Regions from separate parts of the Homo sapiens genome. Here region 2 is linked to region 1. The links come from fine-mapping of genetic effects on gene expression. Tissue or cell type: whole blood. Region 1 holds a variant in brackets; the other region holds the start of a gene. All regions are shown on one strand. Distances are between the middles of the regions.

What was found. PIP is the estimated chance that this variant, and not a neighbour inherited with it, causes the effect.
Region 2: it holds the start of BRPF1, and the variant in region 1 is fine-mapped to the expression of BRPF1 in whole blood (INTERVAL, PIP 0.95).

What each region holds. Positions count from the first base shown.
Region 1 is chr3:9,594,852-9,602,951 of GRCh38, forward strand. It overlaps LOC105376949 (a long non-coding RNA gene), which reads right to left and starts at 5,836. Exons shown (of 3, transcript XR_940586.1): 1 at 5,669-5,836; 2 at 4,682-4,775; 3 at 3,570-3,812. It also overlaps the pseudogene DUSP5P2. The variant T/C (reference allele first, on the strand shown) is at 4,603.
Region 2 is chr3:9,726,744-9,734,838 of GRCh38, forward strand. It overlaps BRPF1 (bromodomain and PHD finger containing 1), which reads left to right and starts at 4,992. Exons shown (of 14, transcript NM_001003694.2): 1 at 4,992-5,395; 2 at 7,388-7,996. The coding sequence starts at 7,398. It overlaps CPNE9 (copine family member 9), which reads left to right. Exons shown (of 21, transcript NM_153635.3): 20 at 370-443; 21 at 2,764-3,165. The coding sequence ends at 2,949. RefSeq lists enhancers at 686-735, 4,428-4,987, 5,548-6,107 and silencers at 4,451-4,810, 5,281-5,330, 5,341-5,470.

The sequences.
Region 1 (8,100 bases):
GCAGTGAGCTGAGATCGCACCACTGCACTCCAGCCTGGGTGACAGAGCAAGACTCTGTCTCAAAAGAAAAAGAAATTAATTGGTATTTGTGTGTGGATCATTCTCTGGACTCTGTTTTGTTCCACTGATGTATGTGTCCATCCTTTTGCCAATATTACTTTACCCTGATTATCTATCTTTGTAGTAAGACTTGAAATCAGGTACTATGAGTCCTCCAACTTTGTTTGTTTGTTTGTTTTTGTTGTTTGTTTGTTTTTAGCTCACTTCAGTCTCTAACTCTTGGGCTCAAGCAATTCTCTCACCTCAGCCTCTCTAGTAGCTAGGGCCACAGGTGTGCACTATCACACCCAGCTAATTTTCTTTTGTTTTCCTCACTGCAATCTCCACCTCCCAGGTTCAAGCGATTCTCCTGCCTCAGCCTCCTGAGTAGCTGGGACTACAGGTGCATACCACCACATCTGGCTAATTTTTTGTATTTTTAGTAGAGACAGAGTTTCTCTGTGTTGGCCAGGATGGTCTCGATCTCCTGACATTGTGATCTGCCCGCCTTGGCCTCCCAAAGTGCTGGGATTACAGGCGTGAGCCACCGCACCCAGCCTCCAGCTAATTTGAAAAATGTTTTTCTGGAGATGGGGTGTCTCTATGTTACCCAGGCTGGTCTTGAACTCCTGGCCACAAGTGATGCATCTTGGCTCCCAAAGTGCTCAGATTACAGGCATGAGCCACCGCACCTAGACTTCTTCTTCTTTTTCAAAATTGTTTTGACCATTCTAGTTCCTTTTCTTTTCCACGTAATTCTTAGAATCAGCTTGTAGACTACCAAAATATTGCTAGAACTTTAAAACCAATTGCACTGAATGTACAGATCAATTTAAGACACCTTAATAATATTGAGTCTTCTTATCCATGAACATGATATATCTTGTCGTTTGTTTTAGTCTCCTTTGATTTTTCTCATCAGGGTTTTGTAGTTTTCTGTGTAAATCTGCTGCACACATTTTGTTAGATTTATACCTATTTCACATCTTTTGGTGTTATCATAAAGGATACTTTTTTTTTTAAACAAAGTTTCACTCTGTCACCCAGGCTGGAGTGCAATGGCACTGAGACAGCCAGATGGGAAGGGGTCCCCAGAGAAACTTCAACCAGCCTGTGCACTGGGAGGAGTGCACATTGGGATGGAGACACAGAAGTTCCTGCTGTTTGCAGTGGGGAGGAGCCTGGCCCCTCCTTTACCTGGGTGGAACCTGCAATTCAATCCATGAGGCAGGAAGCACATACTAACAGTACTTTCACTCTGCTGAGAGTCCCTGTTTCCCTCTGTTTCCCATTTGGCCCAATAAATCCCATTTTTCTCATTCTTCAAATTGTCTGCAAGCCTAGATTCTCATGGCCATGTGACAAGGACTCCATCTTTAGCTGAACTAAGGAAAAGCCCAGCAACAGCACCATCACAGCTCACTGCAGCCTCAACCTCCTGGGGCTCAAGTGGTCCTCCCAGCTAAGCCTCCAAGTAGCTAGGACTACAGGCATGCACCACCACACCCAGATATTTTTTGTATTTTTTTCTGTAGAGACTGAGTTTTCCCATGTTGCCCAGGCTGGTCTTGAACTCCTAGGGTCAAGCAATCCACCCACCTCAGCCTCCCAAAGTGCCAGGATTACAGGCATGAGCCACTGCAACTGGCAATGGTACTTTACATTTCAATGGTACTTCACATTACAATGGTTTTTTTGTTTGTTTGTTTTTTGTTTTTGTTTTTGTTTTTGAGACAGAGTCTCGCTCTGTTGCCCAGGCTGGAGTGCAGTGGCACACTCCACCTCCCGGGTTCATGCCATTCTCCTGCCTCAGCCTCCCGAATAGCTGGGACTACAGGCGCCCGCCACCATGTCCGGCTAATTTTTTGTATTTTTAGTAGAGATGGGGTTCACCGTGTTAGCCAGGATGGTCTCGATCTCCCGACCTCGTGATCCACCCACCTCGGCCTCCCAAAATGCTGGGATTGGGATTACAGGCGTGAGCCACTGCGCCTGGCCACAATGATTTTTACATTTCTTCGTCTTTTTTTTTTTTTTTTTTTGAGACAGAGTCTTGCTCTGTTGCCCAGGCTGGAGTGCAGTGGCACGATCTCGGCTCACTGCGATCTCTGCTCACTGTGACTTCCACCTCCCAGGTTCAAGTGATTCTCCTGCCTCAGCCTCCCGAGTAGCTGGAACTACAGGCTCACGCCACTATACCCAGCTAATTTTTTTGTATGTTTAGTAGAGACAAGGTTTCACCATGTTGGCCAGGCTGGTCTCGAACTCCCAACCTCATGATCCACCCACCTCGGCCTCCCAAAGTGCTAGGACTACAGGCATGAGCCACCATACCCAGACGGTTTTTAACATTTCAAGTTCCAACTTTCTTTTTCTTTTCTTTTTTTTTTTTTTTTTTTTTTTGAGACAGTCTCACTCTGTTGCCCAGGCTGGAGTGCAGTGGCGTGACCTCAGCTCACTGCAAACTCTGCTTCCCAGGTTCACACCATTCTCCTGCCTCAGCCTCCCTAGTAGCTGGGACTACAGGCGCCCACCACCACGCCCAGCTAATTTTTTTGTATTTTTAGTAGAGACAGGGTTTCACCATGTTAGCCAAGATGGTCTCCATCTCCTGACCTCATGATCTGCCTGTCTTGGCCTCCCAAAGTGCTGGGATTGCAGGCGTGAGCCACCACTCCTTGCCCCAATTTTCACTGTACAGAATTAAAATTGGTTTTTTATTGACCACATATCCTGTGACCTTGCTAAGTTGCTTATTACTTATAGTAGGACATTTTTGTAGATTCTTTGAGATTTTCTATATAGACGATTATGTAATCTGTTAGTATAGTTTTATTTCTTCCTTTTCAATCTATATGCTTTTTTATAATCTTAATGTAATGTTCCATTACAATGTTGAATAGGAGTGACAAGGACAGATATCCTTACCTTGTTCTCTTTCTCAGTGGAAAAGCACTGAGTCTCTTACCATTAAATATGATATTAGATGTAGGTATTTTACTGATATCAATTATCAGGTTGAGGATATTCTCTTCTGTTACTAGTATACTGACAGTTTTTATCATAAATGATGTTAGACTTCCTTTTCTTTTCTTTTTCTTTTTTAGACGGAGTCTCGCTCCGTCACCAGGCTGGAGTGCAGTGGCGCAATCTCGGCTCACTGCAACCTCCACCTCCCGGGTTCAAGTGATTCTCCTGCCTCAGCCTCCTGAGTAGCTGGGATTACAGGTGCTCGCCACCATACCTGGCTATTTTTTTTTTGTATTTTTAGTAGAGACGGGGTTTCACCAAGTTGGCCAGTATGGTCTCGATCTCTTGACCTCGTGATCCACCCACCTCAGCCTCCCGAAGTGCTGGGATTACAGGTGTGAGCCACTGCGCCTGACCTAGACTTTCTTTTCAAATGCCTTTCTTGTGGGTGCATTTTTTGAGATCATCATATGGTTTTGTAACAGCCCAAGAGGTTCTTCTTGCCCACTGCCCAGAAAAGCCAATGCACTGAGAACAGCAGGTTTTGCAGCAAAGAACATGTTTAATTGCAAGGCCAGCCAAGCGAGAAGATGAGACAATTCTCAAATCTGCCTCCCAGAGAATGCGGAGGCTAGGGTTTTAAGGATAGTTTGGCAGGCAGGGAGCTAGGGAATGGGAAATACTGATTGGTTTGGTCAGGGATGAAACCACAGGGTTATCAAAACTGTCTCTGTGCCTCTGTCAGTTCCTGGGTGGGGGTCACAAGTCTGGGTGGCATCAGTTGTTCCACCAGAATGCAATGCCTGAAAAATATCACAAATACCAATGTTAGGTTTTACAATAGTGATGTTACCTATAGGGGCAACTAGAGAAATTATAAATCTCGTGACCACTAGCTGTATGAATTCTGAGCAGTAAGCAAATTAGAAAACAATGGCTAGTTATTATTAAACTCTGCATAGGTCGTCGCAGAATTCAGGACCCACCTATAATTCTAATCTTATGGCCTTTCATAAGTTTTACAAAGGCAATGTCAGTACCCAAACAAGGAGAGGGTAATTTGGGAAGGGACTGCTATCATCCTTGCTTTAAGGTTAAATTATTAACTAAATTCCTCCCAGGAGTTCCTGCCCAGGAATTGGCAAGGGCAGTTAGCTTATGAGTTTACAAGGAAGTTGGAGCCTGCTATATTAAATTTCTCTGTGTCTTTTTGGGAAAGGGCTATTACCAATTTTGTTTCAGAGTCAAATCATGAACTGAATTCCTTCCCAAAGTTAGTTTGGCATCCACCCAAGAATGTACAAGGACAGCTTGAAGGTCAGAAGCAAGATGGAGTCAGTTAGATCTGATCTCTTTCACTGCCATAATTTCCTCAGTTATAATTTTTGCAAAGGCGGTTTTGTAACCGCCCAAGGGGTTGACCTGACCTTGCCCGCTGCCTAGACAGAGCAGATTCGTCAAGACAGGGCAATTGCAATAGAGAAAGACTAATTCACTCAGAGCCGGCTGTGTGGGAGACCAGAGTTTTATTATTACTCAAATCAGCCTCTCTGAGCATTTGAGCATTCAGGGAGCAGAATTTTTAAGGATAAC[T/C]TGGTGGAAGAGGGGAAGCCAATCAGGAGTGCTGATTGGTCAGAGATGAAATCATAGGGAGTAGAAGCCGTCTTCTTACGCAGTCAGTTACTGGGTTGGGGAGGAGGGGCACGAGATCAGATGAGCCAGTTCATTGATCTGGGTGGGGCCAGCTGATCCATCATGTGCAGGCTCTGCAAAATCAAGCACTGATCTTAGGAGCAGTTCAGGGAGGGTCAGAATCTTATAACCTCCAGCTGCATGACCCTTAAACCATAATTTCCAATCTTGTGGCTACTGTTAGTCCTACAAAGGCAATATAGTCTCCAGGCGAGAAGGAGGTCTGCTTTGGGAAAAGGCTGTTACCATCTTTGTTTAAACTACAAACTATAAACTTAAGTTTCTCCTGGGCAGGCGCGGTGGCTCACGCCTGTAATCTCAGCACTTTGGGAGGCCGAGGCGGGCGGATCACGAGGTCAGGAGATCCAGACCATGGTGAAATCCCGTCTCTACTAGAAACACAAAAAATTAGCCGGGCTTGGTGGCGGGCGCCTGTAGTCCCAGCTACTCTAGTCTCCTGCCTCGGGAGGCTGAGGCAGGAGAATGGCGTAAACCCGGGAGGCGGAGCTTGCAGTGAGCCGAGATCGCGCCACTGCACTCCAGCCTGGGCGACAGAGCGAGCAACGATCCGTCTCAAAAAAAAAAAAAAAAAAAAGTTTCTCCCAAAGTTAGTTCAGCCTACGTCCAGGAATGAACACGGACAGCTTGGAGGTTAGCAGCAAGATGGAGTCAGTTAAGTTAGATCTCTTTCACTGTCTCAGTCATAATTTTGCAAAGGTGGTTTCAGTTTCAATGATATTTTGTTGTAGCAGCAGGAACAAGTTAAGAATTATTATCCTCTTTATTATTGGTCTCAAAATCCCAGGCTCAAGCAATCCTCCCACCTGGGGCCTCCCAAAGTGTTGGGACTACAGGTGTGAGCCACTGCAGGGCCTACGGTTCTTATATATTGCTAAATTCACTTTGTGATATGAAGGATATTGGTTAATAAAGGATATATTGTTCTATAGGTTCTCTCTCCACCCACCTTGTAATGTCTTAGACTGGCTTTAGCATCAGGGTAAGTCAAATATAAATTAAAATGAGTTGGGAAGTATCCCTCCTCCTTCATGTTCTGGGAGAGTTGGTGTAGGATTGAGATTATTTCTTCTCTAAATATGTGAATCAGGGCTTCTGTTGGGGCCGGGGGGCGGGGGCGCTGGGGCGCTGGGCGGTGGAATGAAGGTCACGTGCCCGACGGGCGCCAGCTGGCTAGATGCCTGGCAAGGAGGCGGCGGCGTGCTCCACTGCCCGCCCGACCTGCCTGCCCTTCGCCGCCCGAGAGTGCGCGGCGCGCTCAACGTCACCTTCGACTCGGTGGCGCCACGGCGGGCCCGGGGCAAAGCGCCGGGCTGCGGCAGAAGGGCGGCAGCGGCGGCGGCCGCGATGGATCTAGGCTAGGGCAGTCGCCACCCGCCCAAGCTGCGAGCCCCATACTCGACTCCTGCTCGCCTGCCTGCCAGCCTGCCCGTGGCCCGCGGGTCTCCTTCCTCAAAGGGGGACCTTCTACTCAGAATATCCCGAGTGCTGCGTGGAAGTAAAACTATTCCACAAGATCGACAGTGGGAGAGCCGGCCTGGCACATTGGCTCAGACCTGTAATCTCAGCACTTTGAGAGGCCGAGGCGGGCGGATCACCTGAGGTCAGAGGTCGAGACCAGCCTGGCCAACGTGGTGAAACCCCCTCTCTACTAAAACTACAAAAATTAGCCGGGCGTGGTGGAGGGTGCCTGTAATCCCAGCTACTCAGGAGGCTGAGGCAGAAGAATCGCTTCAACCCTGGAGGCGCGGGTTGCAGTGAGCCGAGATTGCACCATTGCGCTCCAGCCTGGATGAGAGAGCCAGACTCAGTCTCAAAAAAAAAGGAAGTAGGAGAGCCGGCCCAGCGCGTTGGCTCACGCCTGTGATCCCAGCACTTTGGGAGGCTGAGGAGGGAGGATAGCTTGAGCCCAGGAGTTTGAAACCAACCCGGGCAACATAGAGAGATCCTGTCTCTACAAAAAATAGAAAATTTAGCCAGGTGTGGTAGAGTGCGCTGGTGGGCCCAGCTACTCGGGAGGTTGAAACGGGGACATCACTTGAGCCCAGGGGTTCAAGGCTGCAGGAAGCCATGATCGGGCCACTGCACTCCAGCCTGGGCAACAGAGTGAGACATTGTCTCAAAAAAGAAGGAAAGAAGTGACCCTCATCAGCCAGTCTGGAAAACCAGTGCTGTACATCAGCTATGGGCCAGCTTATGACCAGGGTGGCCCAGTTGAAATTTTCCCTCCCTCTACTTTGGCAGGGTCAACCATGCATCCAAGGGAGAGTTCCTCCCCAACCTGCATATCACAGGTCTCCAGGCCAACCTCCAAGACCCAAAGGACCCATCTTCACTACAAATGGATCCCCATGGAAGACAGCCATATGGCTGACACTAACTCCCACTTTCAAGAATAGACAGGCCGGGCACCATGGCTCATGCCTATAATCCCAGCAGTTTGGGAGTCCGAGCCGGGCTGATCACTTGAGGTCAAGAGTTCGAGACCAGCCTGGCCAAGTAGTGAAACCTCATCTCTACAAAAGTACAAAAATTAGCCAGCTGTGGTGGTGAGTGCCTGTAATCCCAGCTACTGGGGAGGCTGAGGCACAAGAATCACTTGAACCCGGGAGGCAGAGACTGCAATCACGGCACTGCACTCCAGCCTGGGGAACAAGAGTAAAACTCCGTCTCAAAAAAAAAAAAAAAAAAAAAAAAAAAAAAAAAAAAAAAATATATATATATATATATATATATATGCAATGGACTTCATTGGCTGTGTCAGGGGAAAAGGAGGCAAGGTCCTGGTCCACTGTGAGGCTGGAATCTCCCATTCACCCACCAGCTGCAAGTCTTCCCCCATGAAGACCAGACAGCTCTGCCTGAAGGAGACCTTCAATTACATCAAGCAGAGGAGGAGCATGATCTGGTCCAATTTTGGCTTCATGGACCAGCTCCTACAGAAGGAATCTGAGATCCCACCCTCCACGCCCACCCCCAGCCTCCCTCTTGCCAAGCGAGGCAGCAGGCTCTTCACTGAAGGTCATTTGCAGATACTGAGCCCAGGCCTGCAGGATGCCTACTGCACATTCCCTTCCCCGGTGCTGGCACTGGTGCCCACCCACCGGACAGTCTAAGAGTTCAGCAGGATCCCTGTGGCCACAGCCACATCCTGCTAAAACTGGGATGGAGGAACCAGCCCAACCCCAAGAGCAACTGTGACTTTTGTTTCTAAGACTCGTGGACACTTCATCCCAGTGCAATACTGAAGACCTCACTCTGTCACACTGCCCCAGTGAGATAGTGAGTGCTCACCAGGCTTGCAAATGAACTTCAGGCTGACCTCAGGGTAGGTTCTCAAAACACCAAAGGAGGGCCAAGCCATTATGGGAGCACAGCATG
Region 2 (8,095 bases), 130 kb after region 1:
TGAGTGGGACTAAGAACTAAGGAGAAAAGTGGGAGGGGGTCGGGTACTTGGGCCTGCCTCACAGATGACACAAGGTAGACACCCCCGTGTGAAGCCTTGGTCAAGTCACAGACCTTCTCTGAACCTGTTTCCTTATCAGAACCAAGGCTGATGATACTAATACTTCCCTCTGGGGTTCCTGGGAGGATGGACTGCCTGGGAGGCATAATAATAGTAATAATAACTCCATAACGAAGACTGATATTTGTAGGACTTGATCACAAGCATTAGGCATTCTCCTGATGACTCCAAAGGGGAGCTCAAAGGGAGGGGGCAGCATGGGGTGGGGCTGGAGAGGCCAATCAGCTGAGGGGTGTGTCTTTTCTGCAGCAATGGAAGAGTTGGACGGTGATGATGTGCGCGTGTCCTCTAGGGGACGCTACGCAGAGCGGGACATCGTTCAGGTAGACCTGACGTGGGAGAGGCTGTGGAGCTGAGAGGCACAGTGAGAAGAGGCTAAGTTGGGAGCCACTTTCACTTACTGCCTTCTCAGTCTCCTACTTTTTTCCCCCGTCACTCTTTCATCCTTTCTCATTCATTGAATACATCCTTTTTGACAAACAGGAAGGTTGCTGCAGCCTTGGCACATCCGTGGTGTAGGTCGGGAGGTCCCCAAGGCCCCTGCCCTCTAGTGGAGACAACCAACAATAAATAATCACACAAAGAAATATCTCATTAGATTGTGATAAGTACTCCAGAGGAATAGCAAATGCCACTGTGAGAGCCTGTAACAGGGACCTAACATAGGTACAGTAGTCAGGAAAGGGTTCTTTAGCTTGCCAAGACCTAAGGGAGGGGATAAGCATTACAGGGAGAGGAGCAGCATGTGAGAAGGCTCTGAGGCCCAGAAGAACTGGCCCGATCCACGAAAAAGCAGAAGCTAGGGTAGCAGGATCACACTGAGTGTGAGGAGGGAGGCAAAATTTGGGGGTATGTTAGAATTGGAAAGCTCTTGAAGGATTTTACATAGAGGAGTGAGATGGCATTTTAAAAGGATCTCTCTAGCTGCTGCATGGTGGGTGGACAGTAACAGGGCAAGAGAAAAGGCAGGTAGACTCATTAGTGAGGAAGCCTTTGAAGTAGTAGAGGGGAGGCGATAAAGATCTGGCTAGAAGCAGTGGGGAGGGAGAGAAAGTGGCAGGTTCAAAAGATATTTAAGAAGAAAATTTTACAAGACTTGATGATTAGATGATGACAGGGAGTGAGGAGGGCTTCAAGGATGACTCAGTATTCTAGCTTAAGCAACTGGGTGAGTGACATCCCATTTGCTGGGAAGGGGAAAGCTAGAGGAGGAGATTTGGCAGAAAGAGCTAGAATTCAGTTGTGAACACACTGGGTTCGAAGTATCTGTGACAATTGAATGGAGTGGTAATATGGGCAACTAAATATGTGGTTCTAGACCTTAAAAAGAGGTCAGGGATGGGCCCAAGCATGGCGGCTCATGCCTATAATCCCAACACTTTGGTAGGCCAAGGCAGGAGGGCCTCTTGAGACCAGGAGTTTGAGACCAGCCTGGACAACATAGCAAGACCTGATCTCTGCTACATTAAAAAAATAAAGGCCGGGCGCGGTGGCTCACGCTTGTAATCCCAGCACTTTGGGAGGCTGAGGCGGGCGGATTGCCTGAGGTCAGGAGTTCGAAACCAGCCTGACCAACATGGAGAAACCCCGTCTCTACTAAAAATATAAAATTAGCCGGGTGTGGTGGTGCATGTCTGTAATCCCAGCTACTTGGGAGGCTGAGGCAGGAGAATCACTTGAACCCGGGAGGCAGAGATTGCAGTGAGCCGAGATCGCACCATTGCTCTCCAGCCTGGGCAACAAGAGTGAAACTCTGTCTCAAAAGAAAAAAATAAAATAAATAAAAATAAAACATAATTTTTTGAAAAGAGGTCATGGATGGATATATACATTTGGCAGTCATTAGAAACAGATTTTCTTTTGTTTTTTTTCTCCCTTATCAGCCCCTCTCCCCCCACATCTCATTTCTTCTCCTCTCCCTAAGTCCCTCTCCTAGGCCTCTCTCTCTTCCCAGCCCCTTCTCACAGACTCCTCCTCCTTCTTGCCCCAGCTCCATCTCTCTGACCTCCTCCTGTTCTCAGGATCCCTTCTCTCTGGTCCCTGCCCCTTGTCTCCCCTGCTCCCTCCTTTCCAGTCTCCCTCCCCACCTCCTGGCCTGCTCTACTTCCTTCCAGGGAACAATTTTTAAAGTCATGGAAGTGTATGAAATCATCCAGGAAGAGAGCTGAGAGAGAGAAGGGACCAGGTTTAGAGAGCAGATAGACCCAGAGGAATGGTGGTGGGAGGGGGGAGCTTCAAGAAAGGTAAGCAAGAAGCCAGAAGAGTGTGGTATCAAGAGTGGGACGTGTCCAGAAGAATTATGGTCAAATGTAATGGAAAGCTAAAGAGAAGTCAAGCAAGATGAGGACTAAAAATTACTGTTCACTGGACTGATTTAGCAACACAGGGCCACTGACGACATCAGCAAAAGCAGTTTCAATGGCCTGTGTGAAGCCAAACTGGAGTGGGTTGAGGGTGAATAAAAGGTGGAAAAAAAAGTGGGTGGAGAGAAAGCAAATGTAGAAAACTGTTCAAGATGTGGAGAGGGAGATACTGTGATAGTTGGAAAGAGATGCTGGGGATCAAAAAAGAAGCCTCCCTGCTGCACCCCCATGCCCTCTCTCCTGGTCATGGCTTATCTCTTCTTGTCTGTGCCTGACCCAGTTCGTCCCATTCCGAGACTATGTTGACCGGTCGGGGAACCAGGTGTTGAGCATGGCCCGACTGGCCAAGGATGTGCTGGCCGAGATCCCGGAGCAGCTGCTGTCCTATATGCGCACCAGAGACATCCAGCCTCGGCCCCCACCCCCTGCCAACCCCAGCCCGATCCCAGCTCCAGAGCAGCCCTGAGGATTCCACATATCCAATGCCTCACAGTCTGCAAGCCTGCTCACCCACTGCTTCTGCTTTAAGCCAGAGGCACCTGGAACCCTGGACTTCACTGGGAGGGCCAACTTGGAGGATCAGTGCTGGCTGACAAGCCCTCCGCCTCCTTGCCTGCAGAGGGCCTGGCACTATCACCACCTCTCTGCCTTCATGCCAATAATAAAGCTGATCTTTATTCCACCTCTGTCTCATGCATGTTGGCGAAGGAAGACTATGGGACCCAACGACTGGGGCCACATCAAGAGGGAGGGAACCAGGATGGCTTCAGTTAGATTCATCCCCATCCTAACACGTTCATCCAATCACTTCTTCATACATTCTTCAAAGACCTTAATAAGTGAAACTTTGTATGTTTTTCCTCAGGAGAGAGGCCCATAGTTGTTTTTTTTCTTTTTTCCATAAAATCCGAATCCTACACACGACCCATAGTTCTCAGCAGATTCTCAAACGAATTCCTGACCACTAAAGGAGATAACTTAGTATAACTCTGCTTTGATCCATCTATTCTGAATTATTTTAATAAGGATAATAACAGCTAATATTTTCTTTGAACATTCACTACATGTCAAACCGTGTGCTAGGTGATTTACAAGCATCATCTCATTTAATTCTCACAACAACTCTGAGAACAGGTACTATATATTATTCCCACTTTACCCATAAGGAAACTGAGGCTCTGAGAAGATGAGTCATTTAAGATAATTCATCAGTTTGACTTCAGATCCCAAGATCTTAATCAGCAAACCTCTTCCTGGCATGTCGATTTTATTGGGATGGTTTTTAGAAAACATACATTTTATTGGGTCAAATGCAAAGTTTGCATTAAGAAGATAGAAGCTTTCAGATGCTTTGGGCTTTGTCCCAGAACCCTGGAAGACCTTTCACGCTCCTCTTTGATGACAAAACTGGAGAAGTATTGTTTAAGGATGTCTCCCCCTGCCATGCAAGTTCTCTGAAACCCTCAAGAACTAACAACAGAGTTTTCGAGCTCTGTTTTACAAATAAGGAACTTAAAGAACTGAACTTGCCCACGTTCACATTGCTAGGAGGTGACCCACTCACATTAAATCAGCTGTTTTGGCACCATGTTCCAATCAGCAACCCGCAGCACATCCCTGCCAACCCACAGATTTCCCACCGCTTTACCAGACAAGCCCTTTCACACCCACCGGCCCCAAACCAGCCCCTTCTCTCAGACCCATACCTTTTCTCTAGCACCTCTCCTTTACTTTTCCCAAGTTTCTTCCCTTTCCTTCAGTCACGCCCCGTTATCCCTAATCGGTCCTGCCCTTTCCCCACAGCTCCGCCCCTGCCTTACCAAGCCCCGCCTGCTCCCTTCAGCGTCGCATCGCTTTTTCCAACTTTGTTCTTTATTTCTAGTCCAGCTCCACTTTCCAGGCTCATCCAAAGCTCCGCCCTTTCTCTCGCGAGTACTCTTCTTCTGTTTAGCCCCACTTTTTACCCCGCTATTCTAACAGGCCCCCGCTGTGCGGTAGCCCCGCCCCCTCCCACAAGCCCCGCCCCACAGACCGGTCTAGTCTCCAGCCCCGCCCCGGTCCTACCCATAACTACCGGTCCCTTAGGCTCCAGCCCGCATCCCTCTTGCTCCCGGCCCTGCCCCCAGCCCCGCCCCGTGACTCTGGCCCCGCCTCACCGCCTTCCTCCGAGACCAAGGCCAGGTCCCTCCCGCAGCCGCGGCGCCAGCAGGAGGCAGGGAGCGGATAGGGAGGAGGCAGAGGGGGAGGGGAGAAGGGCGGGCTCCTCACGCCCAGCCCCGCGCTCACCGTCCGTGGTTGCAGATTCGCCACAAACCGCCCGACGACCCCAGATCCCGAGTACGGTGACTTCAGTCTCCAGAAACTCCACTCTAAGATGGGAGAGCTAGAGAAGCCCTGTGGGGTGTCCAGGGTCCTTTCTGAATCCCGGAGCACGGTCTTTCGAGCCTCAGCGGGCGGGCGGGGATCCGTGGCGAAAGTGCAGCTCAGTAGCGCCGCGGCGCCACGTTTACCCTGCGCAGACGCCGTCGCCGCCGCTGCTGCCGCCGCCGCTGCCACAGCCTTTGCCGCCACGGTCTCCGCCGCCGCTGTCCTCGCGCTGCCTCTGGGAGCCTCCATTGTTCCAGCAGCGCCCGGTCCCGAGACCGGGCATCTTGGGGGCTCGCGAAACGGGCGGCGGCCGACGGAGTTGAGACCCCAGGGCGCCGGCGGGACCAGGAGCGGCAGGGGTCAGCTCAGGAATCCCGGGGAGCCGGGACCAAAGCGTGGGGCGGCAGGGGGCCGGGGTGGCGAGGTCTACGGTCTCCGGAGTTGGGGCTCCCCCTTCCCGGCCCGACTTTCCCCGCCGACCTCCCCAAGTGGGGTCGGAGCCCCGGCGGGCGCCCCCGGCGATGAGCCCGGACTCGAGGTGGCCGGTGAGTGCGGGCCTGGGACCAGGGCGGGAGTGGCCGGCAGGGAAGGGGTAGGCTACGTTCGTGGGACGCGCACTGAGCCGCGTGGCCCGGGAACCTCTCTGGCAACTCCAGTTGGGAGAACTGACAGTGCATTGCTTCCCAGCAGGCATCCTGGGGCAACAGTGTATCTTTCGGGGCTGCCCGGGCTAGTGGCAGGCGGGGAGCCTTGTTTCACTTGTTACACTTCCACAAAGGGGAAACGCCGCCGCATCCGGAGAGTGGGCTGCGGGCACTGCCGGGGCCCAGCCCTATCCCTCCGGCCCCCGCCCCTTACTTCCTCCAGCCCCCTGAGCTTCAGGGGCAGATGCAGCCGCCATTCTCCTTGGGCCCTCCCCACGGGCTTTCTGGTCTAAGTTCTCGTCTCCCTCGCCTGTGCCTCTGCTGCCGGGTTCCAAGGGGAGATTGCTGATTCGCTGTGCTACTTTGGGAACCATTCACCCGGGACCCAGCTTGGAAAGAGGAGAGCTTGTTTGTGCTTCGGTTGGTTTATGTTTAAAGACACAGCCGCAGGTAGGAAATAGAAGAGTTGCAGTTGGACGTGTAGCGTTACTGATGTGAAAATCAGGAGCCGTTGACAGTGGAGCTGGAGCAGCCCACTTGCCTGGTTAAGGCACAGGTGGAGAGGCCAAGAGGGGTTATTTTGTCAGGGAGCTCATGATAGCCCTGCCTGGCTGGGATGGTGCCAAGCCCCTAGCTGAATGGTTGAACTCAACTAGGCCGAGAGAAATTGGGGCAGTCTCTGACCAAGCTGGGCTTCCTGAGGCCTGGTGCCATCTGCTGTCTACACTCACCCAGGAATGTTGGGGAGCGGGGAGGGAGGGCCCCTGCGGACCAGCATGGAGCTGAGCATGCCTAGATTGTCGCGTTCGTGTTTGTACCCTTAGGGCCTGGCACTTGGTAGTCACTCAGTTGATGTGTGAGTGGGTGAACAGCTCAAATGTAATACAAGCTGCTGTCACTGACTAAATGACCTCAGTTTTCACTTTGTTTCACAGTACATCTCCTACCCAGTACCAGGGCCAGGCTCCCCATAAAGACCTCAAAAGTAAATGAATTCTTTCTGTGATCCAGTGATTTCTGCAGGAGTCCAACGCTAAAGCATTAGCCACCCACCCATTCAGCTTTCTACATGGCCTTCATCCCATCTGAGCTCTCAGTCTGGTGATCCCCTCATTCAGCTATTCGTTCAACAGGTCATTCATTCGTTCGCCAAAAACTGAATGTCCAGTGCATGCTAGGTACTGGGGATACAGAGGTGGATAGGCTCTGGTACCCTTGCTACACAGCTCCCAGTCCAGGGGGGAGACAACTTTCAGTATGTCAAGTGCTGTGGTAGAGGTGAGAATGGAATGCTGTGGAAACAGCTCCCCATGGGAGAGTCAGAGAAGTTGTGTCAGAAGTGACATTTGAGCTGGTTTTTTGAAGAATGAGTAGGAGCCCACCAATCAGAAAGTATGGAGGGCATTCCAAATAGGGATCATTTTGCAGGAATGAGAGGTTATAACATTCAGGGAATGGCAAGATCCCCTGTGTAGACAAAAACAGCTGTAACTTGTAAAAAGAAAGGAGGACTAGGGCCAGTCAGTGAAAGGAGCTCTTTGAATGGCATCATAGAGAATTTGGAATATTATCTTGAAGGAACTGGGAGCATCAGGAGGCTTTTAATGAAGAGAGTGTCATGATCATTACTACCTGGTAGAAAGATCATTCTCCTACATGATGTGAGATTGGGCTAAAGAAGTTGAGACATAGGGCAGGATAACCAGGCAAGAGGTGATGAGGGCCCAGATATGGGCTATGGTGGAGGAGATGGCATTTGGAGACACTGTAGAGGTAGGCTGGCCAGAATCTGGTGACTCCAAGTGAGGGGGAGGGCTAGAAAGACTGGGGTCTCTGGTGCAAATGGCCAGGAACTCATCCCCAGCCTTATGTTAACTGATCTGTGTATTCTAGATGTGACAGCATGGGGGTGGACTTTGATGTGAAGACTTTCTGCCACAACTTGCGGGCGACTAAGCCACCATACGAGTGCCCGGTGGAGACCTGCCGAAAGGTCTACAAGAGTTACAGTGGTATTGAGTACCACCTGTACCACTATGACCACGACAACCCACCACCCCCACAACAAACTCCACTCCGCAAGCACAAGAAAAAGGGGCGCCAGTCACGCCCAGCCAACAAGCAGTCACCCAGCCCCTCAGAGGTCTCACAGTCACCAGGCCGTGAGGTGATGAGCTATGCACAGGCCCAGCGCATGGTGGAGGTGGACTTGCATGGCCGCGTCCACCGCATCAGCATCTTTGACAACCTGGATGTGGTGTCAGAGGATGAGGAAGCCCCCGAGGAGGCCCCTGAGAATGGCAGCAACAAGGAGAACACTGAGACACCAGCTGCTACTCCCAAGTCAGGCAAACATAAGAACAAGGAGAAGCGCAAGGACTCCAACCATCACCACCACCACAATGTTTCTGCGAGCACCACTCCCAAGCTGCCAGAGGTGGTCTATCGGGAGCTGGAACAGGACACCCCTGATGCCCCACCCCGGCCAACTTCCTATTACCGGTAAGGCCACCTCTACCTTGCAGCTCTGGAAAACTGGTCAAGCAGGGCTCACTAGCCAGAGAGAGGTGAGAGGCACAGATAGAAGAGTGACAGGAATAA